Homo sapiens: one gene and its partners. The protein of the gene in region 1 purifies or fractionates together with the protein of each later gene. This does not show direct contact. Each region holds a gene or a part of one and is shown in the gene's direction. Other genes may lie near its edges.

Region 1 (4,297 bases):
TCAAAAAAGAAAGAAAGAGAGAAAGAGAGAAAGAAAAGAAAGAGAGAAAGGAAGAAAGAAAGAGAAAAAAGAAAAGGAAGGAAAGCTGAGGCACAGAGCGCTGAGTTGCCCATGGTCACACAGTTAGCAGGTGGCACAGATCCTGTCTAGTTTCAGAATCCTTGTCCTTGAACATGCTTTGCTCTCTCTCTGAGATTCTTTCAGCTCTTGAGCTTTAGAAATGGAAGTTTCCAGCAAGTTCTTTGCAGCAGCTGATGTTCCCTATTAAATGACAGTGGGGAGTCTTAGAAGTATTCGGGAGGCCTACGTTCACCGCTAACATCCTTGTTGTGAAGGCCTGCTGACGTTTGCCATTCCAGGACCAAGTGGACAATGAGTTAAGCTAGGCCAGGAGGGGGTTCAGCTCCCCATAACAAGGCAGGGGTGGCCCTTTGTGTCCGGCAGCATGGTAGCCCCCCCGCAGGAGCTCCGGCTACCCTTTGTGTTTGACCTTGTGGAAGGGCATGGGAAATGCTGGCCTGTCAGCAGGCATAAACTCAAAAGTTTCTCCTTCAGCTAATTTCAGGGACTGTCTAGCCAAGTGAATACACAGGATTAGGTAATCCATGGATCCTGCGAGGGCAATTGGCTGATTGGCTTAGGTGTGCCCAAGAGCCCTGCAGGTGTCAGAACAAATCCATGTAGAAATGCAGACGCCCACACCAGCTTGAATGGCATAAAGGCACACATTGGAATGTGGCTCATGAGCTGGGACCCAGGATCAACCACTGGTTTAAGGAGAGGACCGTGAAATGTCCAAACATGGAGGCCAGGCCACCTCCCTGGATGCCTGGCTGAGGGCAGCCACATGTCTGCAGCGGTGGCTTGTGTCCATGACTGAGATGGGCAGGGTTTGCAGGCAGTGGTGATCCCATCAGCAGTCCCCAGATCTCTAATGTCAGGAGAAAGAGCATGGGAAGTCCGACGTCCAGGAAAGTCTTTCATCCTGCTTCTCCCTGCCTTGGGCCTTTTCCCATTTCCGCGGTCACCTGTCCACAATGGCTGCACTGTGTGGCTCTTCAGGTGTTCCTAAGACACTGAACAACCAAACCCATGGACTGACCGGATATGAAATTGACGTGGGAGGAGATCAGGCAGGTGCTGGGGCTGCCTGGCGCAATGCACGGAGCCAGAAGTGCTGTTATGGGGAGGGTGTTATTGTTTTAGTGGGTGCAGCAAAGGGTGGTTTAGCCAGCTGGGCAGATCAATTGTAAATTGTTATTTACAGTTTCTGAGCCTTTAAAAGAAGAGCTTCGCCGGAATCAGTCTTCATTACAGATGTGCAGCACCATGAGGGCCCTGGTGCTTCTGCTGTCCCTGTTCCTGCTGGGTGGCCAGGCCCAGCATGTGTCTGACTGGACCTACTCAGGTGAGCCCCTAGCTTCTGCATGCTCCCCCAGTTACCCTCACACCCTTACAACAGGACAAGTGCCCTTCTTCTTCTTCTTTTTTTTTTTTTTAGACAAAGTCTTGCTCTGTTGCCCAGGCTTGAGTACAGTAGTGTGATGTTGGCTCACTGCAACCTCCGCCTCCCGGGTTCAAGTGATTCTGCTGCCTTAGCCTCCCGAGTACCTGGGATTACAGGTGCCTGCCACCATGCCTGGCTAATTTTTGTATTTTTAGTAGAGACAGGGTTTCACCATGTTGTCCAGGCTGGTCTCGAACTCCTGACCTTAGGTGATCTGCCCATCTCCCAAAGTGCTGGGATTACAGGCATGAGCCATTGCGCCCGGCCAAGAGTCCTCCTTTAGGGCATTTCACAGGATGGCCAGGCAGCCCACTTGCCATATGTTGGGGGTCTGCTCATTGTGGCTTCAGATGTTACCTTTTCAGTGTCTCAGAAGGTATGGAGAATAAGCTGAACTTAAACTTCAAATAAGGAAAAGAAGGAAATAGCTTTCCCCTTCACAAACTCCTGATTTACTTACAGGCTTTTTGCTTTAAATTTTTTTCCATCCACAGTGTTGGCTGGTTCAAAAGCACACTCACTGCTTCTATTTGTAAAACCATTTGCTTTGTTGGTCCGTGTAAGTGGAAAACAAAGTTCTTAGAAAAGACTCTCGGTAACCTCACGGAAGGTGCTGTGGGGTTTGCGAGACCTTCTTTCTTGGAAATTTCATGGTAGGCAGTTTACCCAGAACATCTTGACATAAGGACCCAGTTCCCTTTGATCTGTGGGCTGCCAAAATGAGAGGTGTTTTTTTTTTTGTTTTTTTTTTTTTTTTGAGACAGAGTCTTGCTCTGTTGCCCAGGCTGGAGTTCAGTGGTGCCATCTCGGCTTACTGCAACCTCTGCCTCCTGGTTTCAAGCGATTCTCATGTCTTAGCCTCCCAAGTAGCTGGGATTACAGGCACTCATCACCATGCCTGGCTAACTTTTGTATTTTTAGTGGAGATGGGGTTTTACCACGTTGGCCAGGCTGTTCTCAAACTTCTGACCTCAAGTGATCCGCCCACCTTAGCCTCCCAAAGTGCTGGGATTACAGGCGTGAGCCACCGCGCCAGGCCCCAAACCAGACTTTTAAAATGTGAAATGTAAAATCCTGGCATTCAACATGGGTTCTGGTCCACATGTGAGCCAAAGCTAGAAGGCCGTGTCTGTGGACTTTGTGGACACTAAACAGCCCTTTCCAGGGGCAGTGAGGAGAGCTTCTTCCCGCATCCCCCTTCTTTCCATACGGGACCATGGATTGGGGCCCATGAGGAGGCTGGTGGCCGCTGGCTGATGCAGGAAGTGAGACAAACATCTGCTTCCTGCAGAGTCTGCCCCAGTTCAGCTGCTCCGGAAGCATTCCTTCAGGGTGAACGGGATGATCTGTTAAGTCAAGGGCAACGGAATTAGGGACATCCTGGGAGGTTCAGAAAGTCCAGCCAGCTCTGAACAACCGCTCTGTTCCTGAGGACAGTGATCTTACACATGGCAGTGCCTCGGAAGCCTGGGGCATTCTGCTTCACTTGGCCAAGCAGTGCAGGCAGGTGGTTCAGAGGTGAAGGAAGAGAGAATTCAGACAATGAAGTCCTTGTCCTTCCCAGGCTCTGCCCAGCCTCTGAGACAGTGGGCTTCCTGGGAAACTACTAGGGGCTCCAGGAGAACTTGAGAGTAGCTTTTGTAAATGCCTTCCAGGGAAACCTGAGAGATGTTCCAGTATTGACAGTGCCCTGGGCCAAAGCATCTTGCTCTGAGAAGGCGTTGTGCTCCAGGCCAATTGCCTTGATTACAAACCAAAAAGCGGTGAGGGCCCTAGTACAGACACCTTTTTTTTTTTTTTTGAGAGTTTCACTCTCGTTGCCCAGGCTGGAGTGCAGTGGCGCGATCTCGGCTCACCGCAACCTCTGCCTCCTGGGTTCAAGTGATTCTCCTGCCTTAGCCTCTCAAGTAGCTGGGATTAACGGCATGTGCCACCATGCCCGGCTGATTGTTTTTTATTTTTAGTAGAGATGGAGTTTCTCCAGGTTTGTCAGGGTGGGTCTCGAGCTCCCAACCTTAGGTGATCCACCCGCCTCGGCCTCCCAAAGTGTTGGGATTACAGGCATGAGCCACCGTGCCCAGCCACAAACACCTGTCTTAAAACAAGCTGTGTACTCACCACACAGCTACCCCCGAACAGGGAACAGAGGTGGGATTCTCCATGTCACATGGCTGACTCCAAGCTCCACAGCTGTATGGGAGCCAAGTCACCATGATAATCACTCACCTATGTTACTCTGTCCCCTACGATTATCAACCCTCTCTGAAAAGATAAACTTTCTCCTTATGAATTTTAAAAAAGTACTCATTCTAGGTTGTCCTGGAACCTGATGCTTCCTTAGTTTCCCTGAATCCATAAGTGTAGACACCTAGATGGTCTTTACCATACGGGAATCCATAAAAGGGGCTGGAGCAAGAAAATAGTGGTGGGGGGTTCCTGCAGCATGGGGAGGTGGGGGCTGTGTTCCTGTTGGGGGCATGGAAGGACAACTGGGCCCTTGGGAGGAAATGAGGAAGAGGCCCCAGGAGCAGCACAGGAAGAGCAAAGCCAAGGATCCCTCCATGCATTCACCAGCTGGAAATAAGTCAAACGAGAGCAAAAATTTACGTATAAAACACTCTCAGGCCGGGCACGGTGGCTCACGCCTGTAATCCCAGCACTTTGGGAGGCCAAGGTGGGTGGATCACCTGAGGTCAGGAGTTAGAGATCAGCCTGGCCAACATGGTGAAACCCCGTCTCTACTAAAAATACAAAAATTAGCCAGGCGTGGTGGTGCATGCCTGTAATCCC
Region 2 (3,500 bases), about 46 Mb from region 1:
CCCATTGGCTGAGCCCAACTGGAAGCTTTGCAAGGGAGCTGGTGCTGCAGTTTGCACTGAGCAGGCTGGAGAAGGCTGGAGAATAGACTAGGGGACAAACCGAATTGCCAGTGCTGTTATGTCATGATTTAGGCATGGAGTCCAGGGCCTGAGCTTCACTCCATGTCCATCCTGCCCAGAGCCTTGGCACAGCCTGGCTCCCAGACAAGATGTCAAGTTCAGAATCCTTCCTAAAAGGAATCCTCTATGCCAGACCGTGTTGCAGGGATATGGGAGTGCTGGGCTCCCAGCCTGATCAAGGAGCGAGAAAACTCAGGCTCCTAGTCTGTCCTCCGGGGCACTAGCAGGGACAAGGTGGGAGGCTGCTGGGCTGGGATGTGGGGACAGGTTTGATCAGGTAAGGCCAGGCTGTGGCTGTGTTTGCTGCTGTCCAAATGGCTTAAGCAGAGTCCCCCGGCCTCTCTGGCTTCTGCAGGCCTTGAAGTTGCCCCATGTCGACTACATCGAGGAGGACTCCTCTGTCTTTGCCCAGAGCATCCCGTGGAACCTGGAGCGGATTACCCCTCCACGGTACCGGGCGGATGAATACCAGCCCCCCGGTAAGACCCCCATCTGTGCCCTGCCCCACCCCATCTGAGCTGAATCCATTTGCTCTGCCCTGGCCTGGCCTCCCTGCTGGTGGTTTCCACTTCTCGGGGGGCTTTGGGACTCAGCACCTCCACTGACCCCTTTTTTTCTGTCCCATCCCCATCCCCTGCAGCCCCCACTGCCTGCCTTCCTGTTGCCCCACAAATGCAAAAGTCTTGCCTTAAATGATCCTCTTTTCCTTCTTTTCTCTTGTTTTCCTTTTCTCACCATTTGGAATGGCCCAGCAGGCTGCACTTACCTTGGAAGGAGGGTTCATCTGATGGTGACTCTACCTAGGGCCCCCAGGCCTCTATAACTCCCAGTGCCCTGCAGACTGGACCAGATCCTTTAATGGGATAGACACAACCCTGTCTGGGATGCCTCTGCCTACCTTCCTGTTTTGCTGCTCCACCTGCCTCCAGCTCCGTTTGGCTTCCTGGGGCTCCCTGCCTGGGCCACTTTGTGTCTTCCCTCTAGGCCTTTCTTTCCACTGTTCCCTCTGCCTGGTGTGGCCTGGCTATGGAAGGGAGGGAGGAGGAGCGGCCATGGAAAACGGTCTGCATTCTAGCAGGGACTTGCAGGTGGCAATTCAGTCGGGGAAGACTCTAGATGCACCTGGCCTGAGGAGAGAATGAAGGGTTCTAGTTGGACTGTGTTAAGTTTGAGGTGCCCATGGTGTGAGGTCTGGAGCTCAGCGCAGAGATGATGCAATGTGGTGGGTCCATGCAACATGGTGCCAGGACGCAGAGCTTGGGGTGAACTCAGCTTTCACCCCTTACCGGTTCTCGTGGGATCTTGGGAAGCCACTTTCTTCTATGAGCTTTGTCGTTCTTGTCTGTAAAATGGGCACATAACCCTGTCCCTGTCCTTCTCACAGGTTGCTGTGAGACTCCAATGAGTTGAAGGATGTGCAGATGCTTTTGGAAGTGAAAAGTTGGGGGGCTACTGTGTGACTTTGCATACACCCAAACTGTGTGACCTTGCATATGTCTGAGTTGCTGCCATTGCAACAGATCAGAGCTGGTGGGCTGGGTGTGGAGAAAGGGTTTGTGTGGGGGACATCCTCTGGCAAGGGTGGCAGCAGCAGAAGTGAGGGGCCTGGTCGGTCATGTGTGCTGACCCGGCCTGGGCAGCCTGTGGCCAGGGAGAGGACAGCTCCTCTGTAGGAAGAGCCTGTTCCTTTCCAACCAGGTGAGACCTCTTCAGTGGAGCCCTGGAGCCCCCTGTACTCCACATCAGTGCCTCAGGGACCTCCCGGAGCAGGCTAATATCAGAGACCAAGAGGGACACTGGCAGAGGATCACAGAGACCCCAGTCCAGGCAGGGACTGAGAAGATCTTGCCCCCTAAGTTAGTTTCCTAGCACTGCTGTGACAAATTACCACCCCCTCGGTTGGAACAAGTTGATTCTCTGCAGTCCTGGAGGCCAGAAGCCTGAATCAGTGTCGGCAGGACCACTTTCTCCCGGGGGGCTCCAGGGAGAAGCTTCTCTTGCCTCTTCCGTGTCCCAACAGCGGCAGCACACCAATCCCAGCCTCTGTCTTCACACAGCCTTCTCTGTGTCTCTCTCCTCTTCATTGTCTCATAAGGACACTTGTCATTGGATTTAGGGCCCACTGGATCCTCCAGGATGATCTCATGTGGGGAACCTTAACCACATCTGCAAGGACCCTTTTTCCAAATAAGGTCACAGCCACAGGTTGTGGGGGTTAGGATGTGAGTGTATCTCTTTGGCAGCCACTGTTCCCTCCTCTCCCTTGGGCCAGAAGCAGACGTGGGGCCCTTTCTTCCCCATAGGATGCCCATGGATTGCCCCCCTTCCCGCTTCCCCCGAGTGTCTGTGGGAGGTGGCAGGAATGGCAGGCAGGGGTGTGGAACCCCTTCTGGAGTCATATCAAGGGCTTGGCTGGAGGAAGTCCTCCTGGAGCTGTTGGGCTGGCATGGGGCAGGCTGGCTGGGCCCAGCAGCAGCTTCTTCATTCATGGGGAGGCCACAAGCATGGGCCCTAGAGCTGGCTGCCGCCCTCAAACCCAGACCCTGCACTCTTAACTGTGTGACCTTGCATACGTCACTCACCCTCTCTGATCTTCAGGTTCCTCTGCAAAAGGGAGGTAATGATAACCCTCACTCTGGGGGGCTGTTTGGAGGGTTAAATCAGTTATTGCTGTAGCATGCATTTCTCTGTCAGGTATTGAGTGAGGTGCTGTGATTTTAGCCCTGCATTTTTCTTTTCTTACCATTCAATAATAACGTTTTGAGCACCCACTGTGCGCCAGGCACCATATTAGGTGCTGGGGATACAAATGTGAATGAAATGAATGTGGTCTCTTCCCCCAACAGTGTATCCAGAAGATTAATCCATTCCTTAAACAAATGCTACTTGACACAGATTAGTTCTGGATAGGCTGAGAGCTCTGAAGGAGTGCAGGCAGCTGCGAGCCTGTGTATCCAGCAGAAGGATCAGGAAAGGATTCCTGGAGGAAGCGCTGTTCTAGCCAAGACCTACGGGGGCATTATTAACCAGGCAAAGGGGACGGTGTCCAAGCAGTGGAATGAACGTGGATTGAAGCTGTGAGGCAGGAGGGAGTGTGGCCTGTGCAGAAGGGACCGAGGCTGGTGAGACCAGGAGGGCCTGGGTGGCCTCCAGGTCAGATGTGAAAGGAAGAACTTGGCCACAGTCTGAGCTTCTCAGGCGTATGGCAGGGCTGCCTGGTGAGAGGGAATGAGCTCCCTGCTCTGGAGGTATGCAAGCAGGACTGGGCTCTCACCTGCCAGAGGCCACAGAGCTTTCCAGAGGCTGGAAGAGGCCACTCCAAGGCCTCTTTGCCCCTGAGAGTGGTGGCTCTTCTTGAGGCCACCTTGCCACGCTGTCAC
Region 3 (3,500 bases), on another chromosome or scaffold:
TTGTCCATTTCCATGAATAGAAATGGGAGGCTGGGCGCGGTGGCTTATGCCTGTAATCCCAGCACTTCGGGAGGCCGAGGCGGGCAGATCACGAGGTCAGGAGATCGAGACCATCCTGGCTAACACGGTGAAACCCCGTCTCTACTAAAAATATAAAAAGTTAGTCGGGCATGGTGGCAGGCGCCTGTAGTCCCAGCTACTCCGGAGGCTGAGGCAGGAGAATGGCGTGAACCTGGGAGGCAGAGCTTGCAGTGAGCCAAGATCACGCCACTGCACTTCAGCCTGGGCGACAGAGCGAGACTCCATCTCAAAAAACAAAACAAACAAACAAACAAAAAGAAATGGGGCTCCTGGCTGGGTGCAGTGGCTTACGCCTGTAATCCCAGCACTTTGGGAGGCCGAGGCGGGTGGATCACGAGGTCGAGAGTTCGAGACCAGCCTGACCAACATAGTGAAACCCCGTCTCTACTAAAAATTCAAAAATTAGCTGTGCGTAGTTGCACACGCCTGTAATCCCAGCTACTTGGGAGGCTGGGGTAGGAGAATTGCTTGAACCCAGGAGGCGGAGGTTGCAGTGAGCCAAGATCGTACCACTGCATTCTAGCCTGGGCGACAGGGCAAGACTCCGTCTCAAAAAAAAAAAAAAAAAAAAAGAGAAATAGAAATGGGGCTCCTCCATTCTCAACAAACCACCAATTAAAACATTTTTTTGTTCTCTCCTCTCTACCCTCCTTCCCCTTTCGCCTGTTCTTGGACTTAGAGGGACAACAGAAATGCGGCCTAATGCGTAGTTCACACTTATAATTCTAGCACTTTGGGAGGCTGAGGCAGGAGGATCGCTTGAGCCCAGGAGCTCAAGACCAGCCTGAGCAACACAGTAAGATCCCAACTCTACAATAAAAGATTAGCTGGGCAGGCTGGGCGCAGTGGCTCATGCCTGTAATCCCAGCACTTTAGGAGGCCAAGGTGGGCGGATCATGAGGTCAAGAGATTGAGACCATCCTGGCCAATGTGGTGAAACCCTGTCTCTATTAAAAATACAAAAATTAGCTGGGCATGGTGGTGCATGCCTGTAGTCTCAGCTACTTGGGAGGCTGAAGCAGGAGAATCGTTTGAACCCAGGAGGCGGAGGTTGCAGTGATCTGAGATAACACCACTGCACTCCATCCTGGCAACAGAGCAAGACTCCGCCTCAAAAAAAAAAAATTAGCTGGACATGGTGGTGAGTGCCTGTAGTCTCAGCTACTTGGGAGGCTAAGGCAGGAGGATTGCCTGAGCCTTAGGAGGTTGAGGCTTCAATGAGCCATGATCATGCCACTGCACCACTCCAGCCTGGCCAACAGAGTGAGACCTCGTCTGCAGAAAAAAAAGAAAGAACCATTAGGTTGTGATTTTCATTTTCTTTTTACTAGATGATGTCTTAGGCCCTGCTTGATATTTTATGATTAGGGTTGGCTTTAGCTTGAAAGGTTACTTACTCACGCCAGACTTTCCATCTATCTAATCCCTGTGCTGGGGTCCAAGACTTACAGATGCTTTCTGACCTTTAAAAAAGTCTTTTTTGGCCAGGTGCGGTGGCTCATGCCTGTAATCCCAGCACTTTGGGAGGCCGAGGCAGGGAGATCACGAGGTCAGGAGATTGAGAACATCCTGGCTAACATGATGAAACCCTGCCTCTACTAAAAATACAAAAAAATTAGCTGGGGGTGGTAGCGGACGCCTGTAGTCCCAGCTACTCCGGAGGCTGAGGCAGGAGAATGGCATGAACCCGGGAGGCGGAGCTTACAGTGAGCTGAGATCAGGCCACTGCACTCCAGCCTGGGCAACAGAGCGAGACTCTGTCTCAAAAAAAAAAAAAAGGCTTTTTTGTTTTGTTTTGTTTTTAATAAAAATGTACGACTAGAAAGGCCGGGCGTGGCAGCTCATATCTGTAATCCCAGCACTTTGGGAGGCTGAGGCAGGCGGATCACGAGGTCAGGAGATCAAGACCATCCTGGCTAACACCGTGAAACCCCATCTCTTAAAAAAAAAGAAAATACAAAAAATTAGCCGGGCGTGGTGGCGGGCGCCTGTAGTCTCAGCTGCTCGGGAGGCTGAGGCAGTAGAATGGCGTGAACCCGGAAGGCAGAGCTTGCAGTGAGCTGAGATCGCGCCCCTACACTCCAGTCCAGGTGACAGAGCAAGACTCTGTCTCAAAAAACAAACAAACAAAAAATTTACGACTAGAGCACTTACTTTGCTCTGTACTACATCCAAAGGCCAAAAATAGAAATATGCTACTCTGGGCACATTTCCTGTGGGGTAGCCCTGCTCCTCAAGGAGCAGTAGAAAACGAAATAGGCCCTGTCAGGAAGGTATTTGCATTCTAATAGAGGAGATAAGACCTGCTAGGATATCCCTAATATACAGTATTTGATCAAAGTCTTAGTAATTATTCTTTGAAATGTCTCTTTCCTTTCTATTTCCACTTCAGCCCAGTGGGTATTTTAATTACACAGTGTGCCACAATGCTTCAGGCTGTTCCCAACTACAGTATCAGACACCAGCAAAAGGTGACTTGAATGTGAGGCTGCACATCAGCATACTGTGGTCTTACGGCTCTAACGTATCCTGCAGTATGACTGATTCCTACCCACAGATGCTTTTCTTTTCTTTTCTTTTCTTTTTTTTTTTGTGAGACGGAGTTTCACTCTGTTGCCAGGCTGGGGTGTAGTGGCGTGATCTTGGCTCACTGCAACCTCCGCCTCCTGGGTTCAAGCGATTCTCCTGCCTCAGCCTCCCAAGTAGCTGGCACTACAGGCATGCACCGCCACGCCCAGCTAATTTTTGTATTTTTGGTAGAGACGGGGTTTCACCATGTTGGCCAGGATGGTCTCGATCTCTTGACCTCGTGATCTGCCTGCCTGAGCCTCCCAAAGTGTTGGGATTACAGGCGCGAGCCACCGCACCTGGCTTTACAGATGCTTTTCATCACAGTCCTCCCTTCCCAGTGTTCTCCAAAGTATGACTGCATTTTTCAAAATCTCTTTAAATTTCCTCTTGTTTGAAATATGATTTGGAATGCAGCGATTCCCCCCCACACACAAAAGAAATATGAGAGAATGACAACTCTAATGATATTCTACAAAGAGAGAAAGTTTATAATCAGGGCATTAAGCAAACTCACAAATTACAATTCTCTCACAGAATTTTAAGTAGAAGGTACAGATTTGGAGCATTTTTTTCCACCGATGTATTTACGGGAAATTTTGTTTATTCTCATCAGACATTTAGTAAACGGAACAACCCAATGAATTGGTCCTAATGAATATACCTTGAGAATGGCTATTTTATCCCCAGCTTCATTAGGGAGGCTCTGTTGATTCCAAATCTTTTTAAGTGCTTTTCCTGACACTTTCCCCCTCCCCCATATTCTCCATTTAGTTGAGCAACTTGCATCTTAAGGAAGAGAAAATCAAACCAGATACCAATGGTAAGTAACTAATAGCTAGTTTGAAAAC
Region 4 (3,500 bases), on another chromosome or scaffold:
AAGAATGCGAGATAAGACTCTAGGAATGTTTGGAATTTCTCTGATTGAAGTTTAATTCCTTTAATATGATCATTTATGGATATGGTCTTGATATTATTTAGTTTGACAAATATTAACTTTCTCTTGATCAAAAAACCAACTAGCTTCTTTATCATCTGAATTAAAGGCTATGATTTTAGCAGCAAGATGAATCAAGATTCTGACTTCTAATTGGGCATTATTCTTAAAGATTCCATCCTGGGAAACAGTCCGAGGAGAATGAGTTGACCCTAAATGGGAGAGCAGAGCACCTTCCCATTAGGTGGTGGGCAGCCTAGCTGGCTTATTTCTCCTCCTATTCTCCTATTCCAATTCATTTTTCTTTTGCAGGTTCTGTGGATGGAGTTATAAAGGAAGTGAATGTGAGCCCATGCCCCACCCAACCCTGCCAGCTGAGCAAAGGACAGTCTTACAGCGTCAATGTCACCTTCACCAGCAGTGCGTAAAAGTGGCTCTTAACTCAAATTCATGTTACAGCATAACCTAAATATCAAGTGTTGGAATAAGCATGGGAATGGAGGGGAGGGGAATTGGCAGTCATGAATTTTATGATTTCTTTTGCACCTCATGCAAAGCTAGGGTTCACTGTGCCCTTGGACACCCTTCTCATGCAGGGTCCATGGCTCCCAGACTCCCTTTAAGCAAACAGGGAGATGTCCATGTGTTCACAGGTTAGAGAAGACAGCTTGGCTTTTCTGTCTTGACCCATATTGCATAGTAGGCTATGATGGGAATGTCAGCTCTGTTTAGCTACAGACTGCAGAGTATTAGTATGGACCCCAATTCTTTAAGCTTTGGAACTCCTCCAAAATGTTGTTTTAAGCAGTAATGCCTTTCAGCTATTAAGTCTACATCCCACCTGAAAATAAAGGTGCAACTAATACTTAACAGCCTCCTTAAGATTTAGGGAACCCACTGGGGACCCAAGAAATAGCCAAGAAATCTGAGCTTTCTTCTCCAATATTCAAGAAATATCATTGGAACTTTTTGCTTTCTTGTACCACATCACTTTGAGATTTTTAAGAATCTAGACAAATGTAAAATCTTTTATTACTAAGCAGGGCATGTTCCTTGAATCTTTTCCTCATTTTCTGTCCTGTGAAACTAGACTAGACAGTCTAATAAGAAACCTCAAAGTTCCTGTCATCTTTTGTTCATAAGCCTAAAGACAGCTCTAAGTACTAGCTCCCTGTTTCCTCTCTGGACTATACCCTGGCCTCTCTATTGTTCCAAACCAAAAAAAAAAGCCTTCTGAACAAGTCATCCCCAACCCAGACAGAAGGAAAGAAACAGAACCAATTTTCTGGGTCTCCAAAATACCCTAATAACTCATAAGTCTGATTGCCCTCATTTTTTAATACCTTTATTCCTCCTGGCCATCTTGTGATGTGGAGGGTAAAGTTTATAAAGAATTGCATGTCTTTCTAATCTTACCCAATTTCTTTTTTTTTTTTTTTTTTTTTTTTTTTTTTGTGACAGAGTCTCGCTCTGTCACCCAGGCTGGAGTGCAGTGGCGCAATCTCAGCACACTGCAACCTCCGCCTCCTGGGCTCAAGCGATTCTCCCGCCTCAGCCTCTTGAGTAGCTGAGATGACAGGCATGCGCCACCACGCCCGGCTAATTTTTGTAGTTTTAGTAGAGACAGGGTTTTTCCATGTTGGCCAGGCTGGTCTCAAACTCCTGACCTCAGATGATCCACCCGCCTCAGCCTCCCAAAGTGCTGGGATTACAGGTGGGAGCTACTGTGATCCAGCCTAATCTTACCCTGCTAAAGGGTTACCTCTTTCACTGTTGTTACAGACCATGACATTTAAGACACACAATATACTTGGACAGAAGCTGATATAAATAGCAAACAGAAAGTTTACTGCCAAAAATCAGTTGCCTTGTTAGATAAGGTTGTTTATCCAGGTATCTCTGATTCTCCTAAGAAACTGTGAAGGGCCATGAAGAGCAAGGTTAAGAGCAAAGAAAACTTCTGCTGATTGTTTTTTTTTTTTTTTTTTTTTTTGCATAATTGTGTTTGGAGTGAATGCTTGCACTGTGCTAGTACCAAGCACCACTATCAAGAGAAATAGACCCTAGGAATGCTGTTGCTTGGGATTATTTCTGAATTTTTGATTTAGAGTTTGAAAATAGGTTATTTTCTTTGCCATCTGATTCTCTTTTTTTCTCTTAGATATTCAGTCTAAAAGCAGCAAGGCCGTGGTGCATGGCATCCTGATGGGCGTCCCAGTTCCCTTTCCCATTCCTGAGCCTGATGGTTGTAAGAGTGGAATTAACTGCCCTATCCAAAAAGACAAGACCTATAGCTACCTGAATAAACTACCAGTGAAAAGCGAATATCCCTCTGTAAGTGATACCATTATTGAGGACACGGGAGGCCTTGGGACTGGATTAGAGTTCTGAGGGCAGTGGGCAAGAAGCAGAGATGGGGGTAAAGGGCCCCTTATCTCTATGATGAAGAAGAAGCCCGAGGGAAAGGAGATAGGTGCGGTGTTAGGCATCAGGAGGTAGGGCAGGTCTTTTTCTCTGTGTCTCTTCATTCTTTCACTATGACCTGATGGTTAGCCTGGGCCTAATGATGCCATTTGTTTTTTAATATACTAAAATTTAATCATACATAAGAACTGTAATTTAATCTGACAGTAAAACACAAGAAGCAATATTAGAGTTGGTTTAGTATATTGTATATTTTAGCTTTGAAAGTCGTAGAAATCAGTTACCCCAGTTTTTTTCCTATAAAAGACCCATTTTTCCAAAGCATTATGCACAATTTCAATTAGAATATAATGACAGAGGATATTCCATAATTTTTAAAATATAAAATGAGGTAATTGATTCAAAAAAGTTATCTACTGCAATATCAATATCATTACAGATATAAAGTATGATGGTTCAACTTTTTAGTGCTTGATAGGGAGGAATCATGATAAAAAGGTCAATATGAAATCATTTGATTATAGTAGCAATATCTAACATTTGAAATGCATCCATGCTCTTTTGTATAATCATATTAGAGTCAAGTATATTTTCACATCTGTTATGTCTTATTTTCCAAGAGATATACACAGAGCAGTTTTTTTTCTCCAGGGAACTTATACAAACCAATATAAGATCTAAATTCTTCACATAATGTATAAAACAGGAGAAGCCTCTTCAAATTTATTTTTTGAAGTCTGGAATGCTGGCACTTTCCAATTAGGCAATAGTTCTTCATTCCTGTAACCTAGCTCAGAGCTGCTGCTGACTATGGGCCTAGAGCAGCAGACATGATTTCTTTTTAGGCTGTTTCTTTTCCACTGGTGTTTTTCTATTTATCTGTCTGACCAGGTCATAAAATATTTCATTAACATTGACCTTTGACTTTGCAGATTATTCTAAAATGGCACAGTTCCATCACTGTCATGCTAAATTCTGGCCCTGTTCTTTGCCAACTACTCACTCATCTTCCAGGTCAC

What was found. Proteins that work in one complex are often made in the same cells at the same time.
Region 2: the proteins of CA6 (region 1) and PCSK9 purify together in Homo sapiens (affinity purification with mass spectrometry; one large-scale study listed by BioGRID and IntAct). This does not show direct contact.
Region 3: the proteins of CA6 (region 1) and DDX19B purify together in Homo sapiens (affinity purification with mass spectrometry; one large-scale study listed by BioGRID and IntAct). This does not show direct contact.
Region 4: the proteins of CA6 (region 1) and NPC2 purify together in Homo sapiens (affinity purification with mass spectrometry; one large-scale study listed by BioGRID and IntAct). This does not show direct contact.

Annotation. Positions count from the first base shown.
Region 1 is NC_000001.11:8,944,558-8,948,854, forward strand, and holds the start of CA6 (carbonic anhydrase 6 isoform 1 precursor), read left to right. Parts: upstream 1-1,310; 5' UTR 1,311-1,317; coding exon of another isoform or gene 1,318-1,329; coding exon 1,330-1,408; intron 1,409-4,297. UniProt on the Homo sapiens protein: Reversible hydration of carbon dioxide. Its role in saliva is unknown.
Region 2 is NC_000001.11:55,046,048-55,049,547, forward strand, and holds part of PCSK9 (proprotein convertase subtilisin/kexin type 9 isoform 1 preproprotein), read left to right. Parts: intron 1-475; coding exon 476-599; intron 600-3,500.
Region 3 is NC_000016.10:70,309,186-70,312,685, forward strand, and holds part of DDX19B (ATP-dependent RNA helicase DDX19B), read left to right. Parts: intron 1-3,423; coding exon 3,424-3,472; intron 3,473-3,500. UniProt on the Homo sapiens protein: ATP-dependent RNA helicase involved in mRNA export from the nucleus.
Region 4 is NC_000014.9:74,483,306-74,486,805, reverse strand, and holds part of NPC2 (NPC intracellular cholesterol transporter 2 isoform 2 precursor), read left to right. Parts: intron 1-369; coding exon 370-477; intron 478-2,218; coding exon 2,219-2,391; intron 2,392-3,500. UniProt on the Homo sapiens protein: Intracellular cholesterol transporter which acts in concert with NPC1 and plays an important role in the egress of cholesterol from the lysosomal compartment.